Linked DNA regions of Homo sapiens. The protein of the gene in region 1 purifies or fractionates together with the protein of each later gene. This does not show direct contact. Each region holds a gene or a part of one and is shown in the gene's direction. Other genes may lie near its edges.

What was found.
Region 2: the proteins of PAK6 (region 1) and ATP2A1 purify together in Homo sapiens (affinity purification with mass spectrometry, with the first as the bait; one large-scale study listed by BioGRID). This does not show direct contact.
Region 3: the proteins of PAK6 (region 1) and PGD purify together in Homo sapiens (affinity purification with mass spectrometry, with the first as the bait; one large-scale study listed by BioGRID). This does not show direct contact.
Region 4: the proteins of PAK6 (region 1) and RHOBTB2 purify together in Homo sapiens (affinity purification with mass spectrometry, with the first as the bait; one large-scale study listed by BioGRID). This does not show direct contact.
Region 5: the proteins of PAK6 (region 1) and ACACB purify together in Homo sapiens (affinity purification with mass spectrometry, with the first as the bait; one large-scale study listed by BioGRID). This does not show direct contact.
Region 6: the proteins of PAK6 (region 1) and AGK purify together in Homo sapiens (affinity purification with mass spectrometry, with the first as the bait; one large-scale study listed by BioGRID). This does not show direct contact.
Region 7: the proteins of PAK6 (region 1) and TTC28 purify together in Homo sapiens (affinity purification with mass spectrometry, with the first as the bait; one large-scale study listed by BioGRID). This does not show direct contact.

Annotation. Positions count from the first base shown.
Region 1 is NC_000015.10:40,245,563-40,249,062, forward strand, and holds part of PAK6 (serine/threonine-protein kinase PAK 6), read left to right. Parts: intron 1-3,500. UniProt on the Homo sapiens protein: Serine/threonine protein kinase that plays a role in the regulation of gene transcription. The kinase activity is induced by various effectors including AR or MAP2K6/MAPKK6.
Region 2 is NC_000016.10:28,888,488-28,891,987, forward strand, and holds part of ATP2A1 (sarcoplasmic/endoplasmic reticulum calcium ATPase 1), read left to right. Parts: intron 1-299; coding exon 300-466; intron 467-3,500. UniProt on the Homo sapiens protein: Key regulator of striated muscle performance by acting as the major Ca(2+) ATPase responsible for the reuptake of cytosolic Ca(2+) into the sarcoplasmic reticulum.
Region 3 is NC_000001.11:10,416,064-10,418,537, forward strand, and holds part of PGD (6-phosphogluconate dehydrogenase, decarboxylating), read left to right. Parts: intron 1-923; coding exon 924-1,054; intron 1,055-1,312; coding exon 1,313-1,446; intron 1,447-2,474. UniProt on the Homo sapiens protein: Catalyzes the oxidative decarboxylation of 6-phosphogluconate to ribulose 5-phosphate and CO(2), with concomitant reduction of NADP to NADPH.
Region 4 is NC_000008.11:23,013,048-23,016,547, forward strand, and holds part of RHOBTB2 (rho-related BTB domain-containing protein 2), read left to right. Parts: intron 1-1,642; coding exon 1,643-1,731; intron 1,732-2,590; coding exon 2,591-2,696; intron 2,697-3,500. UniProt on the Homo sapiens protein: Regulator of cell proliferation and apoptosis. It likely functions as a substrate-adapter that recruits key substrates, e.g. MSI2, to CUL3-based ubiquitin ligase complexes for degradation. Required for MSI2 ubiquitination and degradation.
Region 5 is NC_000012.12:109,263,087-109,266,586, forward strand, and holds part of ACACB (acetyl-CoA carboxylase 2), read left to right. Parts: intron 1-1,145; coding exon 1,146-1,300; intron 1,301-2,023; coding exon 2,024-2,194; intron 2,195-2,302; coding exon 2,303-2,439; intron 2,440-3,149; coding exon 3,150-3,276; 3' UTR 3,277-3,500. UniProt on the Homo sapiens protein: Mitochondrial enzyme that catalyzes the carboxylation of acetyl-CoA to malonyl-CoA and plays a central role in fatty acid metabolism.
Region 6 is NC_000007.14:141,610,410-141,613,909, forward strand, and holds part of AGK (acylglycerol kinase, mitochondrial isoform 1 precursor), read left to right. Parts: intron 1-785; coding exon 786-878; intron 879-3,500. UniProt on the Homo sapiens protein: Lipid kinase that can phosphorylate both monoacylglycerol and diacylglycerol to form lysophosphatidic acid (LPA) and phosphatidic acid (PA), respectively. Does not phosphorylate sphingosine. Phosphorylates ceramide.
Region 7 is NC_000022.11:28,677,041-28,681,189, reverse strand, and holds the start of TTC28 (tetratricopeptide repeat protein 28), read left to right. Parts: upstream 1-1,349; 5' UTR 1,350-1,466; coding exon 1,467-1,568; intron 1,569-4,149. UniProt on the Homo sapiens protein: During mitosis, may be involved in the condensation of spindle midzone microtubules, leading to the formation of midbody.

The DNA of each region.
Region 1 (3,500 bases):
CTCAGATCAGCAAAGAGGAGCTCTGAGGAGGAAAAGGCTGCCCCAGGAAAGAGCTGGCCATCTCAGATTGCTGTAGCACATTCAAGCCAAAGGGAGTCCCCGGAGGATGTTTCGTCCAGCCCCCATAATTTTAGAGCGGGAAACAGAGGTCCAGAGAAGGAAAGTGGGTCCTGAGGCCACACAGCTAACTAATGGCAGAGTCAGTTTCCAGCCCAGGGATCCCCAGCTGCCTGCCCAGCACTCTTGCTACCCAGGCTGAACCCCCACCCCCGTGCTACCAAGGGGCCCATGCAGGAGCAGGCAGCAGCCACTGGGTAACTTGATGGCTTGGGAGAGGCGGCCTGGCCTGACACATTGGGAGGCTGGGCAGGTCCCCGCTTTGCTCCTATTGTGCTATTTGGGTGCCTCCTGCCATCCCCCTGCATTCTGCTAGACCTGAAACCACAGCCCAGCCCACGCTTGTCAGTCAAGTGCTTCCCGAGGATAAACTTTGCACACAGCACCCAGGCCACTCTTGGGGACCAGGCCACTCTCTGTTGAAGAGATCTAACTAATTTATAAATTGATTGATTGAAGTTCTTTTTGTCCCAGGTAACTTCATGTCTTAGGCCAAAGAAGGGAGTCATGATGAGTGCCAGAGATGAAACGGAGATTCTGGGGCAAAGGGTAGGGGAGGCACCTGGGAGGCCCTGTTCTTCAGGTGATCTTCTCATTAGTGTAGACTTTTGACCCCAGGCAGACATTTACATGTCCAATAGCCACCATCAGAGGTCAGTTCCCAGAAGCAGGAGGCCTGTCACTTGCCACCGGTCACCAGGCCCAAGCTAGACAAGAAGACTTTTTCTATTCCACTAGAGTGGATCTTGCTGATGATGTGTCTGGGATCCAGAAAGGTGGGGAGAAGTAGAGGTCTCAGCTCCTGGGGAGGGATGGAGCCAGCCCCGGGGGAAGAATGCAAGGCCGCCAGTGAGCAGGCATTCAGGGCTCCTGTCGAGGAGAGGGTGGTCAGGACAGGAGGAGGGGCTGCCTCATGGATGATGAGGTCCATCATCCTAGCAGAGGCTGTTGTACCAGCCACTGACGAGGGTGTGGCAGTGGTGTTACCAGAACCCTGCTATGTCAGCGTTCAAATACATGTCCCAGCAGGCCAACCACCCCTGCAGCAGTCAAGGGGTTCTGTCCGGTGTGTGCCAGAATGCTAGGGAAGAGAGGACCCTGAGAAGGATGGCAGCATGGCACAGACACGCCATGTGGCAGTTAGACAGGTCATGCCTTCTGACCCAGGGCACATGCAGAGGTCCACAGACTCTGAGGCCAGCTAGTTAGTGTTCCCAGGGGGCTGCACAGCCCAGAGCCTGTGAGTTTTGTGCATCTGGAGCTAAGGTGTTCTGCCCAAAGTGTTGGAGGTGGGCCTCAGGCAACAAATACCCTGCTTCCTCACATCCCCTTTTCTTCCTTGGAGCTTGGGCCTGGGCCCTCACCTAGTCAGGCACAGGCCTCCACTCCCCCACACTCACCTGTCCTTCCTGAAAGTCAGCCACTGGGCTCCACGCAGGGGTGTCACAGTCAGAGCCCTGCTCCAGCCTCAGACCTGGGGCAGTCACTGGAAACTCAGAAGAGAGAAGACAAGACAATGAAAGTTTCCCATTCAAGGAGGCATCCAGCTGTTAGTTCTGCCAGCAAAAATGCCAGCCAGAGAGCTAAACTGCCAGCAAAAGATATTTGGATGGAACTTTGGAGGCCATTAAGAGCAGGCACTGCAAAGCAATTGTAGCGAAAAGATATTAAATGAATCCATCACGTCTCTAAAATGAGTGTCCTTACCACAGATCTGGCTCTTGCTGTTCCCCAGCCCTTCCCAGGGTAGCCCAGGATGCACCTGGGACGGGCGCCGCAGCCTGCAATGGTCCCTGCATCTGAGGAGCTCCTCCCAGGTCACCAGGCTCCTTGGGACTGTCAGGCAGGTTTAGCCCCCAGTGTCAGCTTGTGTTTGGGGAGGATGGTTTTATATATTCTCGTTGGCACAGGAAGCCTAGTACAGATGCAGAACCTGAGGGAAAGGCAGGCAGAGAGAGAGAGGCTCGAGGTTCTGCTGAGGCCCAGGGTATCAGCAGGGCACATCTGTACAGCAGCCGGGCGGGGACCCATGGACTTTTCCAAAACACCTAACCAGGCCCTAGACAGTGCTACCCCCTGGCGCTGGGCTCTCTTTCCGGAACCCGGGGTGAACAGACCTGTTGGGTTGATTTAGTAGCAAGTGGTAGCCTTGTTTTCTGGACGAATCCTGGGATTCTACTCCATGGCACATCAAACCAAGCTCCAGTGTGCATGCCCAGGGTCGGGGAGGGGAGCTTTCTCCTTGGTCCCTTCTGCAGCTGTGAGGGCTGAGGGTTAAGAACCTTTCACCCCGTTTGGGGGTGCTGCTCCTCCATAGCCCTGTACCCCAATGCTCTAGACTTCATTATTCCACCACCTTCCCCAGGGCGGGAGGTACTCTTTCCATTACATGCATCAGGAAACTGAGGCCAGAGACATGCTGTAAGTCTTGCGAGGCAAGAGGGCTCCCGTCCGCAGGACTCCATGGCTCTGCAGCTAGACTCCGTCAACTTCCCTCCTGCCTGGGGACCCCAAGGGCCTGGCAGTGTCAGCTCCCTCGGCTCACACTTCCAGATGCTCGGAGGTTCAGAGGTTTGCACCTCCCTCTTGGTCCCATCAGCAGAGAGAGATGGGTGGTCCCATCAGGGTGAGGAGCAGGAAGAAGCAGGTGCTGGACAGCCTGGAGGAGAGGGGGAGGAAGGGATTTTCTCCCAAGAGTGCCTCTCTCCCAGGCTTCGGGCTCCAGGGTGAGTGGGCAGCGACCCCTCTAGGAGCCCCAGCTCCACAGGGCTCCTCCTGCCAAGCATCCAGCACACGTGCCCCCACCTCCCCGGCAGGTCCTGCTTGAGGGCCTGAGGCGACTGGGCCATCTGGGTCTGTGAAGGGCAGATGTGGGATGCAGGAACTTCAGGCAGGGTGCTGGCTTGTGGCCAGGAAAGCCTAGCACCTGATTCCTAGCAGGGAACTCAGTGACAGAGTGGGGGAACCTGAGGGCCCCTCTGCCCCTCACACCCAGTGCCATGTGGGGGTCCTCGCGTGTTACACAGAAATAGGAAGGGACGGTCCTCCTACCCGCACCCCAGCCCTCTTGTGTCTCACGTGACAGCCTGCCTGGGCAGTGATTTTTTTAAAACACAAATGCCTTATATTAAGGTCTGAGTTGGTCTCTCCCCACTGCCCGTTCAAACATTCCATGGCACCAGCAGCCTCTAAGCAGCAGAGTTGAGAGAACCAGCTTTGGGGTCGGATACACTTCCGTTCAAATTCCAGCTCCTCCCCTCAGTAACTGGCTTACTTAGTCTTTCTGGACTGGATAACAAAATACTATGGACTGGTGGCTTATAAACAACAGAAATTTATTTCTCACAGTTCTGGAAGCTGAGAAGCCCAAGAGCAAGGTGCTG
Region 2 (3,500 bases), on another chromosome or scaffold:
AATCTCGAACTCCTGGATTCAAACAATCCTCTTGTCCCAGCCTCCTGGGTAACTGGTACCACAGGCAATCACCACCACACCCAGCTAATTTTTAAATATTTTCAGAGGAGTCTCACTGTGTTTTCCAGGCTGGTCTCAAACTCCTGGCCTCAAGTGATCCTCCCGCCTCAGCCTCCCAAAGTGCTAGGATTATAGGTGTGCACCAACGTGCCCAGCTGGGGGCTACTATTTAGCCCCTTGCAGGTTCCCTCACACCCTCCCCTTGCAGGTTCCCTCACACCCTCCCTCCCTCCCCACAGGTCTTCCTGCAGTCATCACCACCTGCCTGGCCCTGGGTACCCGTCGGATGGCAAAGAAGAATGCCATTGTAAGAAGCTTGCCCTCCGTAGAGACCCTGGGCTGCACCTCTGTCATCTGTTCCGACAAGACAGGCACCCTCACCACCAACCAGATGTCTGTCTGCAAGGTCAGGAGCAGTGTGGGCAGCGCGCTCAGTCAGAAGGCTGCCTGTGGGGGTTAAATGGGCCCTCCAAAGATAGAGGTCTCCCTTCATCACTGCTGGCTTCTCATCTGGGCCTGCAAAATGCTCAAAGGGCAGTAGAACGCCATCCTGTCTGCCATGAACGGGATCAGAGAGGACCCTTGTGCCCCAGCCAGACAGCTCACTCTGACCACCATCCACGCACCAGGCACTGCCACACATCGTCTCTCATCCCTCACAATAGCCCATTCAGAGGATGGTCTCATTATCTTCATTTTTTTAATTAAAAAAAATTATTATTATTTTGAGACAGAGTCTCACTCTGTCGCCCAGGCTGGAGTGCAGTGGTGTGATCTTGGCTCACTGCAACCTCTGCCTCCCGGGTTCAAGCGATTCATCTGCCTCAGCCTCCCTAGTAGCTGGGACTACAGGTGCCTGCCACCACGCCTGGCTAATTTTTTTGCATTTGTAATAGAGACAGGGTTCGCCATGTTGGCCAGGCTGGTCTTGAACTCCTGGCCTCAAGTGATGTGCCCCTGTTCGCTTCCCAAAGTGCTGGGATGATAGGTGTGAGCCACGGCACCCAGCCTAACTTCCTTTTTTAGAGGAGGAAAAAGCCTCTGAGAGATTAAATGACTTCCCCCAAGATGCACAGTTAATAAATAACAGAGTTGAGCTTCAAACCCGAGTCTGTGTGGCCCCAGAGCTTCTGCCTGTGAAGTAGATGGCTCTCCAGAATGGTCACTCATGACAGGGCCCGGCCAGACTGCCAACACTGACCGTGAACAGCATTTCCTAAAGCAGGGCTCTTAATCTTTTCTGTGCCTCACACCCCTTTGCAGTTGAGCTCTTGTCAGGATAATATTTCAAATGTATATTAATAAAATAAAACAGGCCAGGTGCAATGGCTAACGCCTGTAATCCCAACACTTTGGGAGGCCAAGATAGGCAGATCACGAGGTCAGGAGTTCGAGATGAGCCTGGCCAACATGGTGAAACCCCATCTCTACTAAAAATACAAAAATTAGCCGGGCATGGTGGTGCGTGCCAGTAATCCCAGCTACTGGGGAGGCTGAGGCAGGAAAATTGCTTCAACCCGGGAGGCAGAGGTTGCAGTGAGCCGAGATCGCGCCACTGCACTCCAGTGTGGGCGACGGAGTAAGACTGTCTTAAATAATAAAATGAAATGAAATGAAATAAAATAAAATAAGCCAGGGGTGGTGGCTCACGTCTGTAATCTCTTCAGGAGGCCAAGGTGGAAGGATCACTTGAGCCCAGGAATTCGAGACCAGCCTAAGCAACATAGTGAGAGTCCGTCTCTACCAAAAAAAAAAAAAAAAAAAAAAAATTAGCCTGATGTGGTGGTGCACACTTGTAGTCCCAGCTACTCAGGTGGCTGAGGCAGGAGAATCACTTGAACCCAGAGATTGCTTGAGCCAGGAAGTCAAAGCTACAGTGAGCTGTGATCACACCACTGCACTCCAGCCTGCATGACAGAGCGAGACCCTGTCTCACGCACAAAAAAATAAAATAAAATAGGGCTAGGTACGGTGGCTCACGCCTGTAATCCTAGCACTTTGGGAGGCTGAGGCGGAAGGATCACTTGAGCCCAGGAGTTTTAGACTAGCCTGGGCAACACAGTGAGACCCCACCTTTTAAAAGATAAAATAGAAAGTAAAAAATAAATAAACAAAACAGGATTCTGGGTTTTTTTGTTTGTTTTTTTTTGTTTTTTGAGATGGAGTCTCACTCTGTTACCCAGGCTGGAGTGCAGTGGCCCAGTCTCGGCTCACTACAACCTTCACCTCCCAGGTTCAAGTGATTCTCCTTCCTCAGCCTCCTGAGTAGCTGGGACTACAGGCACGCACCATCACACCCAGCTAATTTTTGTATTTTTAGTACAGATGGGGTTTCGCCATGTTGACCAGGCTGGTCTCTTAACTCCTGACCTCAAGTGATCTGCCCACCTCGGCCTCCCAAAGTACTGGGATTACAGGAGTGAGCCACTGCGCCCGGCCAGGATTCTGTTTTAAAAATACATAGGAAGCTGGGCACGGTGGCTCATGCCTGTAATCTCAGCACTTTGGGAGACCGAGGTGGGTGGATCACCTGAGGTCAGGATTTCGAGAATAGCTTGTCCAACATGGAGAAACCCCGTCTCTACTAAAAATACAAAAATTAGTTGGGCGTGTTGGCAGATGCCTGTAGTCCTAGCTACTAAGGAGGCTGAGGCAGGAGAATCACTTGAACCCAGGAGGTGGAGGTTGCAGTGAGCTGAGATTGCGCCATTGCACCCCAGCCTAGGCGACAAAAGCAAAACTCCATCTCGAAAAAAAATATAAAAGACCTGACGCAGTGGCTCACGACTGTAATCCCAGCACTTTGGGAGGCCGAGGTGAGCAGATCACCTGAGGTCAGGAGTTCGAGACCAGCCTGACCAACATGGAGAAACCCTGTCTCTACTAAAATACAAAATTAGCTGGGCGTGGTGGCACATGCCTGTAGTCCCAGCTACTTGGGAGGCTGAGGCAGGAGAATTGCTTGAACCTGGAAGGCAGAGGCGGTGAGCTGAGATCGTGCCATTGCACTCCAGCCTGGGCGACAGAGCGAGACTCCGTCTCAAAAAAAAAAAAAAAAAAGTAGCCAGATGCGGTGGCTCACACCTGTAATCCTAGCACTTTGGGAGGCCAAGGCGGACGGATTACCTGAGGTCAGCTTGGCCAACATGGTGAAAACCAGTCTCTACTAAAAATACAAAAAATTAGCCAGGCGTTGTGGTGGGCACCTGTAATCCCAGCTACTTGGGAGGCTGAGGCAGGAGAATCGCTTGAACCCAGGAGGCGGAGGTTGCGGTGAGATTGCACCACTGCACTCCAGCCTGGGCGACAGAGTGAGACTTTGTCTCAAAAAATAATAATAATAAAATAAAACAAAAATAAAAAAGTAAAAAAAAAATACATAGGAAAGATACATAGGGTTACAGAGGAAACCAATGATTGTGAAATACAGTTCTATCAAA
Region 3 (2,474 bases), on another chromosome or scaffold:
CTGAGTATTCTACATAACAGTGGTTTTTATTTTATTTTACTGGTTTTAGAGACAGGGTCTCACTGTGTTGCCCAGGCTGGAGAGCAGTGGTGTGATCATGGCTCACTGTAGCCTTGAACTCCTGGGCTCAAGTGATCCTCCCACCTCAGCCTGCCAAAGTGCTGGGATTACAGGTGTTAGCCACCTTGCCCAGCCATAACAGTGGTTTCTATCTCTTCATTTTCCCTCAAAACTCCCTTTTGAATTTCATGTTAATCTTTGTGATTGAATACTCATGTTTGTATTGGAAGATTGTCTTAAGAGTTTTAGTTATCAAATTAACTGTTTAGAGCTTCTTATAAAAGTTCCTTCCGATCCATGTCAACTTTTGTGGCCTAAGGTTGAAACTTTCAGCTCTTTGTATAAACAGACTTTCCTGCTCCACCTTTCTTCTGGTTGCTGTGCGAACTTTGGTAATTTTCATGCGCATCCGTGTGAAAAGACCACCAAACAGGCTTTGTGTGAGCAATAAAGCTTTTTAATCACCTGGGTGCAGGCAGGTTGAGTCCGAAGAGTCAGCGAAGGGAGATAGGGGTGGGGCCATTTTATAGGATTTGGGCAGGTAGTGGAAAATTACAGTCAAAGGGGGTTTTTCTCTTACGGGCAGGGCCGAGGGGTCACAAGGTGCTCAGTTGGGGAGGTTCTGAGCCAGGAGAAGGAATGTCACAAGGTTAATCGCTCAGTTAAGGTGGGGCAGGAACAAATCACAATGGTGGAATGTCATCAGTAAAGGCAGGAACCAGCCATTTTCACTTCTTTTGTGATTCTTCACTTGCTTCAGGCCATCTGGATGTATACATGCAGGTCACAGGGGATATGATAGTTTAGCTTGGGCTCAGAGGCCTGACAGTAATCTGTTTCCTCTTCCCGATCTCCCCATGTAGGAGAAGCTGTCTTTGCTCGGTGCTTATCATCTCTGAAGGATGAGAGAATTCAAGCTAGCAAAAAGCTGAAGGGTCCCCAGAAGTTCCAGTTTGATGGTGATAAGAAATCATTCCTGGAGGACATTCGGAAGGTGGGACACAGTCCCTGGCAGTGGTCTTTGTTGGTCCTGCGGAAGGCAGTGGGGGTGGGGGTTGTGGTGGGAGAACACTCGAGGCCACAGGATGGCAGGTGGAATGAAGTTCAGCCTTGACTTGGATCTTGACTTACAATGTTTTCCTAGAATATTGGCCCTTCTGGGATCTCCACTGCTGATGAGAATAAGACTGGTAGACATAAGGCGGTCACTCTCCTAATGGCAATCCTAGTAGGTCTCTGTGTCACTCTTTAGGCACTCTACGCTTCCAAGATCATCTCTTACGCTCAAGGCTTTATGCTGCTAAGGCAGGCAGCCACCGAGTTTGGCTGGACTCTCAATTATGGTGGCATCGCCCTGATGTGGAGAGGGGGCTGCATCATTAGAAGGTAAGTGAGAGGCAGCCCAGGGTCCGACGGGAAGGACTCACACGGCTGTGCAGAAGTGCGATCTTAGGACACTTAGCTTGAGCAGTTTCCAGGGATGGGCACTTAGCCCCATCACTGGACACTGGCACAAGATAGGCTTAGATTATGTGGTTCCCTTCTTCACTGTACCTCAGTTGCTGTAACTAGATTGTCCACACTACACCTTTTTTTTTCTTTTGAGACCAAGTTTCGCTCTTATTGCCCAAACTGGAGTGCCATGATGCGATCTTGACTCACTGCAACCTCTGCCTCCCGGGTTCAAGTGATTCTCCTGCCTCAGCGTCCTAAGTAACTGGGATTACAAGGGCACGCCACCATGTCCGGCTAATTCTTTTGTATTTGTAGTGGAAACAGGGTTTCACCATGTTAGCCAGGCTGGTCTCGAACTCCTTGCCTTGGGTGATCTGCCCGCCTCAGCCTCCCAAAGTGCTGGGATTACAGGCGTGAGCCACTGCGCCCGGCTCCGCATTACACCTACTACACTACACCTTTTAAAGTACTTCTGTGAACTATCGTGCCCTCTGGCCTTGCCTCTTGGGAATTTTGCTCTGTATTTTCATTGAAAATGCCAAATCATAGAAAACGTAGCATTTCTACACATGACGTTACATCGTTCTCATGTTGGCTGAAGATTCATTTGATGAATCTGATTTTTCTGAAGTAGATGATTCTGGTGATTCAGATGATTCTAATATTAGTTCTCTTTAGAAATAACGCCAAGAATAGTTTTTATATTTTATTTTCATATTGAAAATCGTCAGATTTTCTTCAGCCTCAAAAAGCGTGTTTATGTAAAATTAAATGAGCGCTGGCAGCGAGCTGCACTTTTTTTCTAAACAGGAAAAGGGTTAACAGCTTGAAGAAATGAGAAATGTAACTTTGTTTCACTAGGGTATACATCGGCTTCCAGCTTACTTCCCTGTTAGAGTTAAGATTCATTGCATTTGGCCGGGCGCGGTGGCTCACACCTGTAATCCCAGCGTTTTGGG
Region 4 (3,500 bases), on another chromosome or scaffold:
CTTGGCCTCCCAAAGTGCTGGGATTACAGGCGTGAGCCACCACACCCGGCCTAATTTTTAAATTTTTTGCAGAGATGAGGTCTCACTGTGTTGCCTGGACTGGTCTTAAACTCCAGCCTCAAGTGATCCTCCCATCTCGGCTTCCCAAAGTGCTGTGATTACAGGCGTGGGCCACCAAGCCTGGCCTAGTTTAATGAATTATTATAAAGAAAATGCCTTTCTACTCATGACCTATGTCAGGAACTAGAACCTTGCTGGCCACCAGAAGTCCTCCACCTCTCCCTCCTCTCTCACAGACCCCTCTCTCCTCCCTAAGAGGAAGCCCTTTGCCTAGTATTCCTTTTTTTATGGCACTTTTTATGGGCATACTGCCTTACTTTCCTTTATAGTTTTATCATCCAAGTGTGTGTCATTAAACACTACAGCATGGTTTTTTGCATTATTTTTTACTTTTATTTTTTATTTTTGGAGATGGAGTCTTACTGTCACCTGGGCTGGAGTATAGTGATGTGATCTCGGCTCACTGAAACTTTCACCTCCCAGGTTCAGGAGATTCTCATGCCTCAGTCGCCCGAGTAGCTGGGATTACAGGCACGTACCAACACACCCGGCTAATTTTTGTATTTTTAGTAGAGACAGGGTTTCACCATGTTGGCCAGGCTGGTCTTGAACTCCTGGCCTCAAGTGATCCACCCGCCTTGGCCTCCCAAAGTGCTGGGAGTATAGGCGTGAGCCACCGTGCCCGGCCAGTTGTTTGTTTTTGAAGTATTATTATGGCCCCTTAGATTTGAACATTCTTGATTGGTTTCAGTTAATTGCAGTTATCCTTGCTGAAGCTCAAATCCTGCACTCTTTGGCTTGACTCCAGAGTCTTACGAGCTTCCTCTCTATCTGGAATGATGAGATGTTCTAGGTTCCTCTTGAAGGTTCTGTGCCCCAGACCTGGAATCAGCCATTTCTCCAGGAAGTCCTAGTTTCTTGTGTTGGAAGTGGAACTGGTATTTGTGTGCACTAGGAATGCTCATTGTACTGGGATGACTGTTGTTTCTAGGTCTTTTCTGGGGGCAGAGCTGGGAAATATATTGATCTTTTTAAAGATAAGATACCTCATGAGTTTATACTGATACTTCTAATTAAAATTCAGAACCAAGGGTGTTTACTTCTTCAATATAAGTGTTTTAACTTAAAATACAAGGTTAGTACACAATTTTTTACAAAATTTAAATTAAAACAAACAACTAGACTTAACTCCTAGTTCTAACTCACAGTTCTCAGCCTTTTTCTGTGATCAGCAGACATGAGGTTTCACACACTCTCCCTTTTGTATCAGAGGCTGGTTCTGTTGGGAACTTTGACCCTACCTGTATCAGATTATGTCACGGGACATACGTAGTTTGAAAAATCCTCTTAGGTAATTCCAATGTCCTCCTTCTCTTCCTACCCTACCCCGTTGAGCTCTTGCTGTCATCCCTGGGGTCCCCCTGGTGGCAGCAGACGTCATAGCCTGGGGCCTTTCCTGGCCTGTCCGGACCTGCCCGGGCCCTGGTTTTCCTCACCCTGAAGTGAGCTGGGGGATGTGGTGGGGCAGGGTGAGCACAGGTCATGTGCTTCTTCAGCTGATTGGTGGCCGTGTGTGTTACAGAGCAGTACACAGTGACCGGGCTGATGGAAGCGACCCAGATGATGGTGGACATCGATGGGGACGTCCTTGTGTTCCTGGAACTGGCTCAGGTATCATGGCAGGGGAGGGAATCTACAACAGTCTCAGTTCTACACTCTGCCTGCCCATTGGCTGCGAATGGGAAGGGGTGGAAGATGGTCTATGCGGGAGAACCTGTCATCGGACTGGGCTCTTTGACTGCGCGTAGCCCATCTCCTCCTCCATGCCAGGAAGCAGCTGGGGAACTCCCTGGTGTACCCGGAGGGGAGCTGACCAAGTGGGGAAGGGATGAGGCTTTAGGCAGCAGTAGGGCTGGGGAGGGAACCCCAGGCTCAGGCTTACACATGGTTGCTGCCTGCCTGAGGTCATTTAAGGGGCACTGAGGACTTTCCATCTGAAATTAACCGCCTACTCCCTTAATCCCAAACAAACAAGCCAAATCTCCCACAGTGGCCTTCACAGTGCCAGAAATTCAGCCACCAAAGATTAGTGTGTGGAGTGGAAGCACGGCTCAGGCAGGGCTTGCAGACACCCCTGGGAAGGCAGCTCCCTTAGCTCATTGTCAGTGCCTCCGTGCAGGCTGCCTTGATCCCAGATGTGGAGGAGAGAGAAGTCAGGTAGGTTGAGATCTGAGGAGGGCAGATGCAGTATGAAGCCACTACATAGGGCTCTGGTGTCTGCAGCGAGGATGCCAGGAGTGGGCAGAACAGAGGTGAGATGATGGTGGTGCTGGCGGTGGTGCCAAGGAGCCTGAGGCAGCATCATCATCCTCAGTTTTGTGTGGCCTTGCCTCTGGCGCAGGCTCTCTAGAACTGCAGGGCCTCTGCGTGCCCTGCACCAGAGCTTCAGCTCTGAAGGCAGCTGGAGGTGTCTATGCAGACCCTCTCCCCTGGGGATTTCAGTACAGACGTTCTTCCCTTCTGTCCCCAGTTCCACTGTGCGTACCAGCTGGCCGACTGGTGTCTCCACCACATCTGCACCAACTACAACAACGTGTGCCGCAAGTTCCCCCGAGACATGAAGGCCATGTCCCCAGGTGAGCATCGGGGCCAGTCCTGGCAGTACCTGCTGCCCTCCCCTTAGGGGTGCACAGCTCCCATGTAATCCCAGGGACCCCGAGGCTGCCAGTAATCCTTGACCTTGGGGCTGGGAGCAGCCTGCAAAGGAGCCTCCAGCCAAGCCAAGGGGCCCCAGGAAAAGTGCTGGCCTGGAGGGCAACTCACCCTGCCTCTCTGGGCTTCTCATTCTCAGAGGTATGAAGAGGATACTGGACTAAAGTTGGTAGATTTCAGACTTTTCTGGACAGAATACCGTAAGAAATACATTTCATCTTGTGACCCAGGACACATATAGGAAAATATATACATCTTTCTAATGCTGCTCATGGCCCACTAAATTGATGGTACAACCCAGGAATGGGTACAGGCCACAGCTTGGACCACCCAGGTCTGGGCATCCTCTGAGGCCTCCTGTCTCTTCTTGATTAATTTCTTAGGCCCTAGAACTCAACAGAAACTGCACAGGCTCCAGGGAGAGGTGTCCCTGGCCTCCCTGAAGGGTCTGCCACTCTTTCCATGGGGTCCTCTCTGGGCTCCCTCCAGTCTGCCGTGACCCTCCTCCCTGCTGCCGTGTTTTTGCCTCATGCTGCCAAGTCTCCACCCCGATCTCTCCTTTTCACTACTACAACACTTTTAAAAAAAAATTATTTATTTATTTATTTTTTTGAGACAGTCTTGCTCTGTTGCCCAGGCTGGAGTACAGTGGCACAATCTCGGCTCACTGCAACCTCCACCTCCTGGGTTCAAGTGATTCTCATGCCTCAGCCTCCCGGGTAGCTGGG
Region 5 (3,500 bases), on another chromosome or scaffold:
ATTCCCAATCAGAGATAAGATATTTTACTAATTTTGTTTGAATGACAGCTTTGTTTTACTTGTCATCTTTAGATGTAATTATCTTTATTTATTTATTTGTTTATTTTTGAGACAGAGTCTTGCTCTGTTGCCCAGGCTGGGGTGCAGTGGCGCAATCTCAGCTCACTGCAACCTCTGCCTCCCAGGTTCAAGCGATTCTCATGCCTCAGCCTCTCAAGTAGCAGGAATTACAGGTGTGTGCCACCACACCTGGCTAATTTTTGTGTTTTTAGTAGAGACAGGGTTTCACCATGTTGGCCAGGCTGGTCTTGAACTCCTGGCCTCAAGTGATTTGCCTGCGTCAGCCTCCCAAAGTGCTGGGATTACAGGCGTGAGCCACTAAGTCTGGCCACAAGATGATATTTAAATATCCATTTTAAGTGTCAGTGTCTTTATAACTGTGCTATTCACAAGATTTTTTACAGTGTGTGCGTGTAATTTCTTTGGCTGGTATCAGGGTAATGCTGATCTCATAGAATGAGTTGAAGTGTTCGCTCCTATTTTCTGAGTTTTTGCAGAATTGGCATTATTTCTTTATGTTTTTGATAGAGGTTTTTACCTATAAATTCAACTTCTTTGTTATATATAGGACTATTTGTGTTATCTGTTTCCTCCTAGGTGAGCTTTGGTGGTTTGTGTGTTTCAAGGAATTTGTCTATTTCATCTTAAGTTGTCAATTTGGCATAGAGTTGCTTATAATATTCCCTTATCATATTTTACAATGTGTACTAAAAATCATTGATATAGTATCCTACAAGCACGATGGGTCTGATGGAAGGGGAAAATGTAGAGTTGCATGTTGAATGCTGTCTTGCAATTGTGAGTGCATTTCTGAGACTGTACTAGCTATTTGATCTGAGACAAAGGGGGCCATCAAGATGGGCCTGGGGTGGGGGCCAGGCCAGTGGACTCTGGGGGACCTAGGGGGCTGAGGGCAGCCTGTGTAGCAGCAGGGGTAATATCAGAGTTAAAGCTCAGACCTCTCACAAGGCAAGGCCTGTCCTGCAAATCCTGATTTGTGCCTTCTTCAAAAAAAAAAAAAAATCTCCACCCCATCACATATGACCAGCTTCCATGGCTTGACTGGCCTTTCTGCTCACCTGCAGGGGAACCTGATCTCTCCGACAAGGACCGAAAGGACCTGGAGGGCCGGCTAAAGGCTCGCGAGGACCTGCTGCTCCCCATCTACCACCAGGTGGCGGTGCAGTTCGCCGACTTCCATGACACACCCGGCCGGATGCTGGAGAAGGGCGTCATATCTGTGAGAGCCACAGCTGCCGTGTAGGGTGCAAAGAGCCCACCCTGTTTTCCAAAACATGGAGGACATTTGGGCTCGGGGGCGGGGAGGGCGGTGGTGGTTGGGATGGGTCAAATGCTGCAGGAGGTGGGAGTCACCTGGGAACTTTAAAATAATCCCGATCCCCAGGTGGCACTGCAGACCAGTGAAATCCAAACACCTGGATGGAAGCCAGGCGGTCGTATTTTTTAAAGATCCCCAAGAGATTCTAATAAGCAGCAAAGTTCAGGGACCACTAGTCTGATGGCTCGGTCAGTTTGGACCTGGACCAGGGGTAGAAACCGTTGTTCCTGTCCAGCATTCACCCACCCCTCACCATTGCAAGGACTCCCACAGTCACCTCCTACCCATGTCCAGTGCTCATTGGTTCTCTTGCTGCATTGTTCTCCCTCCCAGCTGACTCATGCCTCACACGAGCCTGTGTTTGTGTCGGTTGAGGTAGAAGTGGGTGCCAGGTTTTTATGGGGGACATTTTTTCAACTATGGCCAGTCTGGAGTCCTGGTGACGTCCTGCCTCTGAGCAGGTGCCTTCTCCTCCCTGAGCCTCAGCTTACTTGCCTGGGATGATCTGGGAATGATCTCAGAGCCTGGGCCCAGCCCCGGGCAGCCACTGTCATGGGTGTGGTCAGAGCCAGTGTCCCGTCTCCTCCTTCCCTTTCCGGGGATTCAAGCCTGGCTCGTCCACAGGACATCCTGGAGTGGAAGACCGCACGCACCTTCCTGTATTGGCGTCTGCGCCGCCTCCTCCTGGAGGACCAGGTCAAGCAGGAGATCCTGCAGGCCAGCGGGGAGCTGAGTCACGTGCATATCCAGTCCATGCTGCGTCGCTGGTTCGTGGAGACGGAGGGGGCTGTCAAGGTGGGCCTGGGGTGAGAACGAGGCCGGTGAGCACAGGGGGTGCTGGGGGCTGAGACAGCTGGCCCACAGCTGGGTCCCTCTCTGAGGCATCCTCTGCCCCCTCCCCAGGCCTACTTGTGGGACAACAACCAGGTGGTTGTGCAGTGGCTGGAACAGCACTGGCAGGCAGGGGATGGCCCGCGCTCCACCATCCGTGAGAACATCACGTACCTGAAGCACGACTCTGTCCTCAAGACCATCCGAGGGTGAGTGGCCACCGCACCTGCTTCCCAGCCTCCTGGCAAGGACCCGAGCCTGGATTGACCCCTAGCTACCCGACTCCTATGCAGCCACTTGAACCCGCCACCCTGTGCAGTCTGGGGTTGTCCCCGCCCCCTCCCCGCTCCCCAGCAAAGAGACCACACTCCCTAATGTCGGGTCTCCCAGCACAGTGGCTGGGGTGGGACAGAGAGCCTAGAGGTACTCTGAAGGCCGTGTGAGATGCTTCCAACTCATGAACCTTGCTGGAATATGGACTTGTCCAAAGTCACAGCTGGAGCAGGGTTGGTCACAGAACCCACATTTGGAACCGCTAGCCTTCAGGCTGCTGTCTTCCACGCCAGTGTTGACCTTTCCAGAGGGTCCCCTCCCCCAATTGCCATGGGGTCACCCCGTGAAGGAGGGAGTCGAGCACAGGGGACCCCATTTTGGGGATGAAGCTGAGACTCAAGGCAGTGTCTTGTCTCAGGTCATGTCACAAAGCAGTGACCAGTAGGGACGGTGGTGCCTCAAGGCATTCTGAACTTCAGGTCACAGCCCCTCCTGCTGCACAGGACCATCACCCCCATGGGGACCACAGCAGGGACTCGGGAGCTCTGGGTTCTGGGGTGTGGCCCCACACAAGGACTCTGCCACCCTTGGGGCCACTGAAAAAGTGGCTGGAGTGATCCCAGCCCTCCTCTCACCTCCCCCACAGCCTGGTTGAAGAAAACCCCGAGGTGGCCGTGGACTGTGTGATATACCTGAGCCAGCACATCAGCCCAGCTGAGCGGGCGCAGGTCGTTCACCTGCTGTCTACCATGGACAGCCCGGCCTCCACCTGACCGTGGCCCGCCCAGCCACTCCCGGGACCACGGCAAAAGGAACCACCCAGACCCACCACCCGTACACCCTCAGCAGACCCTGAAGACTTGCTTTTAAACAAAGAAAATCCTGGGCACTTCTGCAGGGCTGCTGGTTCCGAGCTGACACCCGTCTTAACAAAAGGCCCAGGAGTGCCTCTTCCAAACAAAAACAGCCTCCTCTCCATAGCTGGGAAGTTTATTTT
Region 6 (3,500 bases), on another chromosome or scaffold:
TTGAAATTTAGTGTTTGGTTTTAGAAGTATACATATTATTGGTGGCTTAAATGGTTCATTGAAGTCTATGTATGTATCTGAAATCAAATGGTATCAATAAAAATGGTAAGTCTTAGGCATTGTTTTGTGACTACTTTGAATCCTACCTGTATTTCTTTATGTATGGTCATAACAAAACAATAATAACCTCCTTTTATTTAGTGCAATACCAGTTATGAACAGTTACCTTACCAGTTGCTTTACATACTGCTTTACAACTGGTTTACTGAGAAGTTATCATTATTCCCTCCCTCAACACACATAATTTCAGTGATGAGGAAATTAAGATCCATAGAATTTAAGGTCACTCAGCTAAAAAGTAGCAGAGTTGAGATTTAATCCAGGTCTCTTGGGCTCTGACATCTGTGCTCTTGTCATTACATCTGCTTCTTCCTATTTGCATGTACACTTGACTTCCTATAAAGGATGTAATAGAATCTGCACTTGACTGGAAATGATGCCCTTGACTAGCTAGCTGTGTAAGAGACAAATTATTGGGTTTGAATTTTATTTTCAAAGTATGGAGCTGACTAGATGGTTTCTGAGGTCCCTCTGGCTCTAAAAGTGTAAAACTGTAACGACTATACATAATTGCTTTGATAGCTATTTTTTTCATGTCTATCAGTTATGTAAAATTTACGAAGACAGTCAATGTAAAACTTTAAAGAAGATATCCCACATTTTTAAACCTTTAACCTTGTGGCTCTAGGTTGATAAACTCACCAAAGGCTTCCTTGGTATTTCAGACAGATTATGAGGGACAAGCCAAGAAACTCCTGGAACTGATGGAAAACACGGATGTGATCATTGTTGCAGGAGGAGATGGGACACTGCAGGAGGTATGACTGTTTTTCTCTTTGAAGCTATTTTGAAGGTGAGAAAAATGGAAATTAAATCCTAGAGCAATGGTATGTTGTAATTTAAAGAAATTTTTTATTTTAATTCATTATTTTAGGATTGTTGCTCTCTAAAGCTAGTATAGCTTTAAATTTTTCTCCTGCACTTCCATTTCATTGCTTTTTGTAAACCCTCTACCCAGCACATAGAAGGATTTTTGTATTATCATATTTAAGTTTGATAATATTGAATATAACAGAAGAAAAAATGATGGTGGATGGGATAATCTTGTTATATTTTGAAGACTCTTATGAAGTAGCCCTGTTTGTAATGGAATCATAGTTTCCATCAACAGGTATGTTTCTTATAAAATAAACAGATATTCAGCTATCCATTCTCATGTCATTTCCATTACATATAATATTATACTACATTAATAGGAAGAGGTATACATGTTAAGATACATGCATCTGCTTTTGTTTTAATATTGCATCTTCTCAATGAGATGCCACTATGCACCTATTAGAATGGCCAAAATTTCAGAACACTGATGATATCAAATGCTGGCAAGGATGTGGAGCAACAGGAACTCTCATTGTTGGTAGGAATGCAAAATGGTACAGCCACTTTGGAACAGCTGGGTGTTTTCTTACAAAACTGAACACACTGTTAACATACAATCCAGCAATCATGCTCCTTGGTATTTACCAAAGGAGTTGAAACCCTGTGTCCACACAATTGCACATGTAGCAGCATTATTCATAATTACCAAATCTTGGAAGCAACCAAGATGTCCTTTAGTAGGTGAATGAATAAGTAAAGTGAGATATATTCAGACAATAGGTATTATTCAGCACTAAAAAGAAGTGAGCTATCAAGCCATGAAAAGACATGGAGGAAACCTAAATGTATGTTACTAAGTGAAAGAGGATAGTCTGAAAAGACTACATACTGTGTGATTCCGACAATTTGATATCTGGAGGAGGCAAAACTATGGAGGCAGTGAAACGTCAGAGGTTACCAGATGTTGAAGAGAGGGATGAATAGGCAGAGCACAGAGGATTGTTAGGGCAGTGAAACTATTCATTATGATACTGTAAGGGTGAATACATTTGTGTTACACACAAATTTGTTTAACACAAATTTTTTGTGTGTATTTGTTATACACAAATGTATAAGTGTTATACATTTGTGGGAACCCATAGATCTGCAACACCAAGAGGGAACCCTAGTGTAAACGATGGACTTTGGGTGATGATAATAAGGTGTCAATGTAGGTCCATCAGTTGTAACAAATGTGCCACTCTGGTGAAGGATGTTGATAATGGGCGGAAGGTTCACGTATAGGGGGCCAGAGGGGACATGGGAAATCTCTGTATTCCTCTCAATTTTGCTGTGAGCCTAAAACTACTTTTAAAACATAAAATTTATTAATAAAGATACCCTTAATGCTTACTTTGGTCCATTAAGGGCGGTAAGTATGTTACCCTGCAAGTACTCTTCTTTTCTAGCAGCAGAGTAGTGCATTCATTATATTTTGGAAACCCCTAAAGAGCCCAGTGCAGGTGATCCCACGCACTGCTTAATTTTTCATTCCTGTATACTATATTTCATATTCATACCTCATTTCTGATTGCCTGTTGTCCCCATTCATTGGTTTTACCAGTGTTCAGGGATCAGAAGCTAACAGCAGAGTACTGTCCTATGTTTGACTTAGTCATTATGTGAGCCTTAGTAAGCTTCTTTTAAAAAGGCTGTGCTAATGATGTTGTAATTGTTTTTATGGCTTTTTAATGAAGTGTGAAGAATATTGATAGCATGCCTACAAAGAAGGAAGTAGACCTCTCAACAGCCCCATTTATTCCTGAAATTCAGTGAGGCAGGAGAAGATGAAGGGAGGAGATCTGGGTCAGGTTTTACTTTACAAAATGTTTTTAAAGAAATTGTGTATTTGGTATAATTACAGTCATATAAAAATATGCACTGATTAGAAAAAGGATTGGAGGGAAATATATCAAATATAAACAAGTGATTTATAATTGGTTATCTGGGGCTGGGTGTGGTGGCTCATGCCTGTAATCCCAGCACTTTGGGAGGCCAAGGTGGGCGGATCACCTGAGGTCCAGAGTTTGAAACCAGCGTGACCAACATGGCGAAACCCCGTCTCTACTAAAAGTACAAAAATTAGCAGGGCATGGTGGTGGGTGCTTGTAATCCCAACTACTTGGGAGGCTGAGGCAGGAGAATCGCTTGAACCTGGGAAGCAGAGGTTGCAGTGAGCCGAGATCATGCCATCGCTCTCCAGCCTGGGTGACAGAGTGAGACTCCACTGCAAAAGAAAAACAAAATAATAATAGTTGTTTATCTGGCATGGTGGAATTATGAGAATTTTTTTTTGTATTTAGGTATTTTTCAGTTTTTACAGAATACTATCCTTCTTCATATTTGTCAATAAGAACGATTTGTTAAGTGCACACTCTCTGAGTGTAGCAAAGTGCTTTTTTCCTGTATATGTACTTCATAGTGGTAAACTAGGGTTTTCTGTATAATTGATGTGTACATCATATTTATACCCATTTTATAGAACTTAAAACATATTTTTAGTAATACAACTTGGAGTTTTT
Region 7 (4,149 bases), on another chromosome or scaffold:
TTACTGTACCTTCTCTATGTTCAGGTACACAAGTACTTACATTGTGTTATAATTGCCTATAGTATATTCAGTAAAGTATCAGGCTGTAGAGGTGTGTAGCCTAGGAGCAATAGGCTACGCCATACAGCCTAGGTGTGTAGTAGGCTATACAAGGCTATACAAGGTTTGTGTAAATGCACTTTGCTGTTTGCACAATGACGCAATCACCTAAGGAGGCATTTCTCAGAACCATCCCGTGATTAAGAGAGGCATGATCGTACAGTCATCATCTCCCTGAAAGCTCAGTCAACCCTGTGCAGTGCTACTGCCACACTCCCCTTTTGCACATGTAGAAATCAAGGATCTTTGGCTCCTCTGAGTGACTTGTTCAAGGTTTCTCAGTTTTCAAGAGATGGAGGCGGGACTTGAATTGAGATTTCCCTTTCTTGAGAACCTGTGGTCCTTAACCATTAAAACCACTTAAGAGGTCTTCTCTCTTGATCACTACCTACTAAGTGCTAGGCGCGGTGCTGAGGCTTTCTCTTATTATTATATTGAGTCCTTATATTTAGGAGAAACAGGCCGTGCGCGGTGGCTCACACCTGTAATCTCAGCACTTTGGGAGGCCGAGGCGGGAGGATCACGAGGTCAGGAGATAAAGACCATCCTGGCTAACATGGTGAAACCCCATCTCTACTAAAAATACAAAAATTAGCCGGGCGTGGTGGCCGGCGCCTGTAGTCCCAGCTACTGGGGAGGCTGAGGCAGGAGAATGGCATGAACCCGGGAGGCGGAGCTCGCAGTGAGCTGAGATCGCGCCACAGCACTCCAGCCTGCGTGACAGACCAAGACTCCGTCTCAAAAAAGAAAAAAAAAAAAGATTTAGGAGAAACAAGTCCCGAAGCCCTGACCCTAACACGCAAGGGTTAGTGGAGATGTGGGACTTGAACTCAGCTTCTCCGTTGAGTCTGGCTGTCTCCGGGACGCAGGCACGTGCTTGCACACCTCCACGATGGCGATCCCGCCCCCTTAGTAGCGTCCTTAACTCGACACTTCTTGCGGGGAAGTTCCTCTTGGCCCAGACCGTCGTCCCAGGCCCCGCGTCGTGGGGGAAGCGAAAGCGGCAGTGTGGGGAAATGGCCGAGGGGTCGGGTCCGGGGTGGTCTGCAGAGAGGCAGGCGGCGGTGCGGAGCCGGGAACCGCGCGCTCACCCGCCGAGTCCGACGGGCCCGGCGGGGGTGGGCGAGACACTGGGAACAGCGGCCAGCTCCAGAGGGCGCGAGGCGGGGCGCGCGGGGAGGGGGCGCGGCGAACGCGCGCGTGCGCGGTGCATGTGTGGGCCCGCGGGGGCGCGCGCGCGGTTTGGGGGCAGTGAGGGGCGCCGCGGCGGCGCGCAGCACGGCGGGAACATGGCGCGCGGAACCGGCGCGCGCGCCTAGCTGGCGGGACCGTTAGCTCGAGGCGGACGCGGCCCGGGCCCCGTGGGGATGGAGCAGTCGCCGCCGCCGGCGCCCGAGCCGACCCAAGGGCCGACCCCCGCAAGGAGCCGAAGGCGGCGGGAGCCAGAGTCGCCGCCGGCGTCGGCGCCGGTGAGTGCGTGAGGGGCTCGGGCCGGGAGACTTTCTTTGTGAAACTCCGGCGGTGGGAGCCGGGCCGGGCCTCAGCGGCAGAGGAGCGCCTGCGAGGCGGAAGGCGTCTCGCAGTCCGGGTTCGATCCCAGCCGCGAGCCGTGAGGCGGCGGGACCTGGTCCGCCGCCTGCCTGGCTCAGTTTCCGCGAGAGTGTGTGTGGATGTGTGTGGGTGTGTGAGGGTGTGTATGGGTGTTGGCCTGCGCACACCGGGGTGGGGGGTGTCGGTATACAGTCAGCGCCTAATGCGCCCAGCGCCTCCCCTTTTCCCCCAGCCCCCGTGGGGCGGAATCTGGGGACTGGAGTCCACCGGAGCGGTAAGCGGCACCCGCGGTGAGACAGGTGTCGGCGCAGCCCGGGATGCTCAGGTGCTACCTTTCCGGGGTGGGGTTTGTGAGGAGTGAGCTCTTCGTCCCCGGAGGCGAGCAAGTCTGTCGGTGGCTCATCAAAGAGCGTTGTTTTGAAAAGCGTTCCACCCACCTCAGCTTCGTGCTGTGTTTGGGCCACTAGTCAGGGGGAAGGATGCTGAGCGACATGGACTTTAGAGGTGGGGCTCCCGCTGGACGGGATGTCTCTGGGCTCTCGAGCTTACCCCCACCCTTGCCTCCCAAACCCGTTAGAGCGTAGGAATCATTGGGAGCACCTGATCAAAATGCCACGGACTGTGGCTCACCACAGCAGGGAAGCCGATTTTGAACTTAAACAAGCTCCGAAGTTGTGATCAGGCGAGCTTGGCAAGCACTGTTTTAGAGAGTAGGCTTCCTGCAAGCAGGAGCCGGTTTTGTGTATACCTCACCATGGCATCTTGGTACCTGGCATGGTGCCTGACACACTGTAGATGATCAGAAAATATCTGTAGAAAGTCTAAATTATTAGGGAGAGTGCAGCATAGGAGTTCTTGAGACATTTTCAGGAGCTTCTTGAGATTAATATCTCAGATTTATTTTACAGTATATGATTTTTCTCAGCTCCCAACTTTGTGATTGTGTTCAATGCCATGTTTTCAGTATGTTTTAGGCAAAAGCAGGGTACATGTTGCTTAGTATACACTATCCACTAGGCCGGGTGCGGTGGCTCACTCCTGTAATCTCAGCACTTTGGGAGGCAGATTGCTTGAGCCCAGGGGCTTGAGGCTGTAGTGAGCCAAGGAGTTAGAGACCAGTGTGGGAAACATAGCGAGACTCGTTCGTCTCCGCAAAAATTAGCTGGGTGTGGTAGAGTGCACTTGCAGTCTCAGCTACTCTGGAGGCTGAGGTGGGAGGATCGCTTGAGCTCAGGAAGTACAAGTTGCAGTGAGCCAAGGTTGTGCCACTGCATTCCAGCCTGGATAACACAATGAAACCCAGTCTCTTAAATAAGTAAATAAATACATAAATGATTATGTATACTCCAGCTAGGTTAAAATTAATTCTGAATCAAAATTCTAAATTAAAATATGCATGTTTCTTTCTCTTCATCATTTGGGAACACTAGGCTTTTAGGATTTCATTCCATTGGGGCAGGTAAATATCTACATTTATGACAAAGCAAATATGAATTACTGTTAATTCAAGAAAGGTGGGAATTTGCTTAAACCTGAGTATTTGTAGTCTTTGTGATTTTTTAAATTTTTAATTTAAATTTTCTTCTTTTTCTTTTTTTTTTTGAGACGGAGCCTCACTCTGTCTTCCAGGCTGGAGTGCAGTAGCACAATCTCAGGTCACTGCAACCTCCACCTCCCGAATTCAAGCGATTCCCCTGCCTCAGCCTCTGGTGTAGCTGGCATTACAAGTATGTGCCACCATGCCCAGCTAATTTATGTATTTTTAGTAGAGAGGAGGTTTCACTGTGTTGCCCAGGCTGGTCCCAAACTCCTTGACCTCAAGTGATCTGCCCACCTTGGCCTCCCAAAGTGCTGAGATTACAGGTGTGAGCCACGGCACCTGGCCTTATTTTTATTTTTTTGAGACAGAGTCTCAGTCTGTTGCCCAGGTTGGAGTGCTGTGGCATGATCTCCGCTCACTGCAACCTCCACCTCCCAGATTCCAGCGATTCTAATGCCTCAGCCTCTTGAGTAGCTGGGGTTACTAGACCCGGCTAATTTTTGTTGTATTATTTTAGTAGAGACTGGGTTTCCCTATGTTGGCCAGGCTGCTCTGGAACTCCTGGCCTCTGGTGATCCACCTGCCTCGTCTTCCCAAAGTGCTGGAATTACAGGCGTGAGCCACTGCCCCCAGCCAATCTTTGTGATATTTTGAAATTGAGGTTTATATTTTGTTCAGAGTCAAAGCTAAAATAGAATTGTTTGAAAATTAATATTTCAGGAACTATTTTTTAATTAAATTGAATTTTATTTTATTGGTTTCATTTCAGTAGGGTTTTAACTTAATATATATGTGTGTATATATATATATATATATATATATATTTTTTTTTTTTTTTTTTCCTGAGATGGAGTCTTGCTCTGTCACCCAGGCTGGAGTGCAATGGCATGATCTTGGCCTCACTGCAGCCTCCACCCTCCTGGCTCAAGCAATTCTCCTGCCTTAGCCTCCCAAGTAGC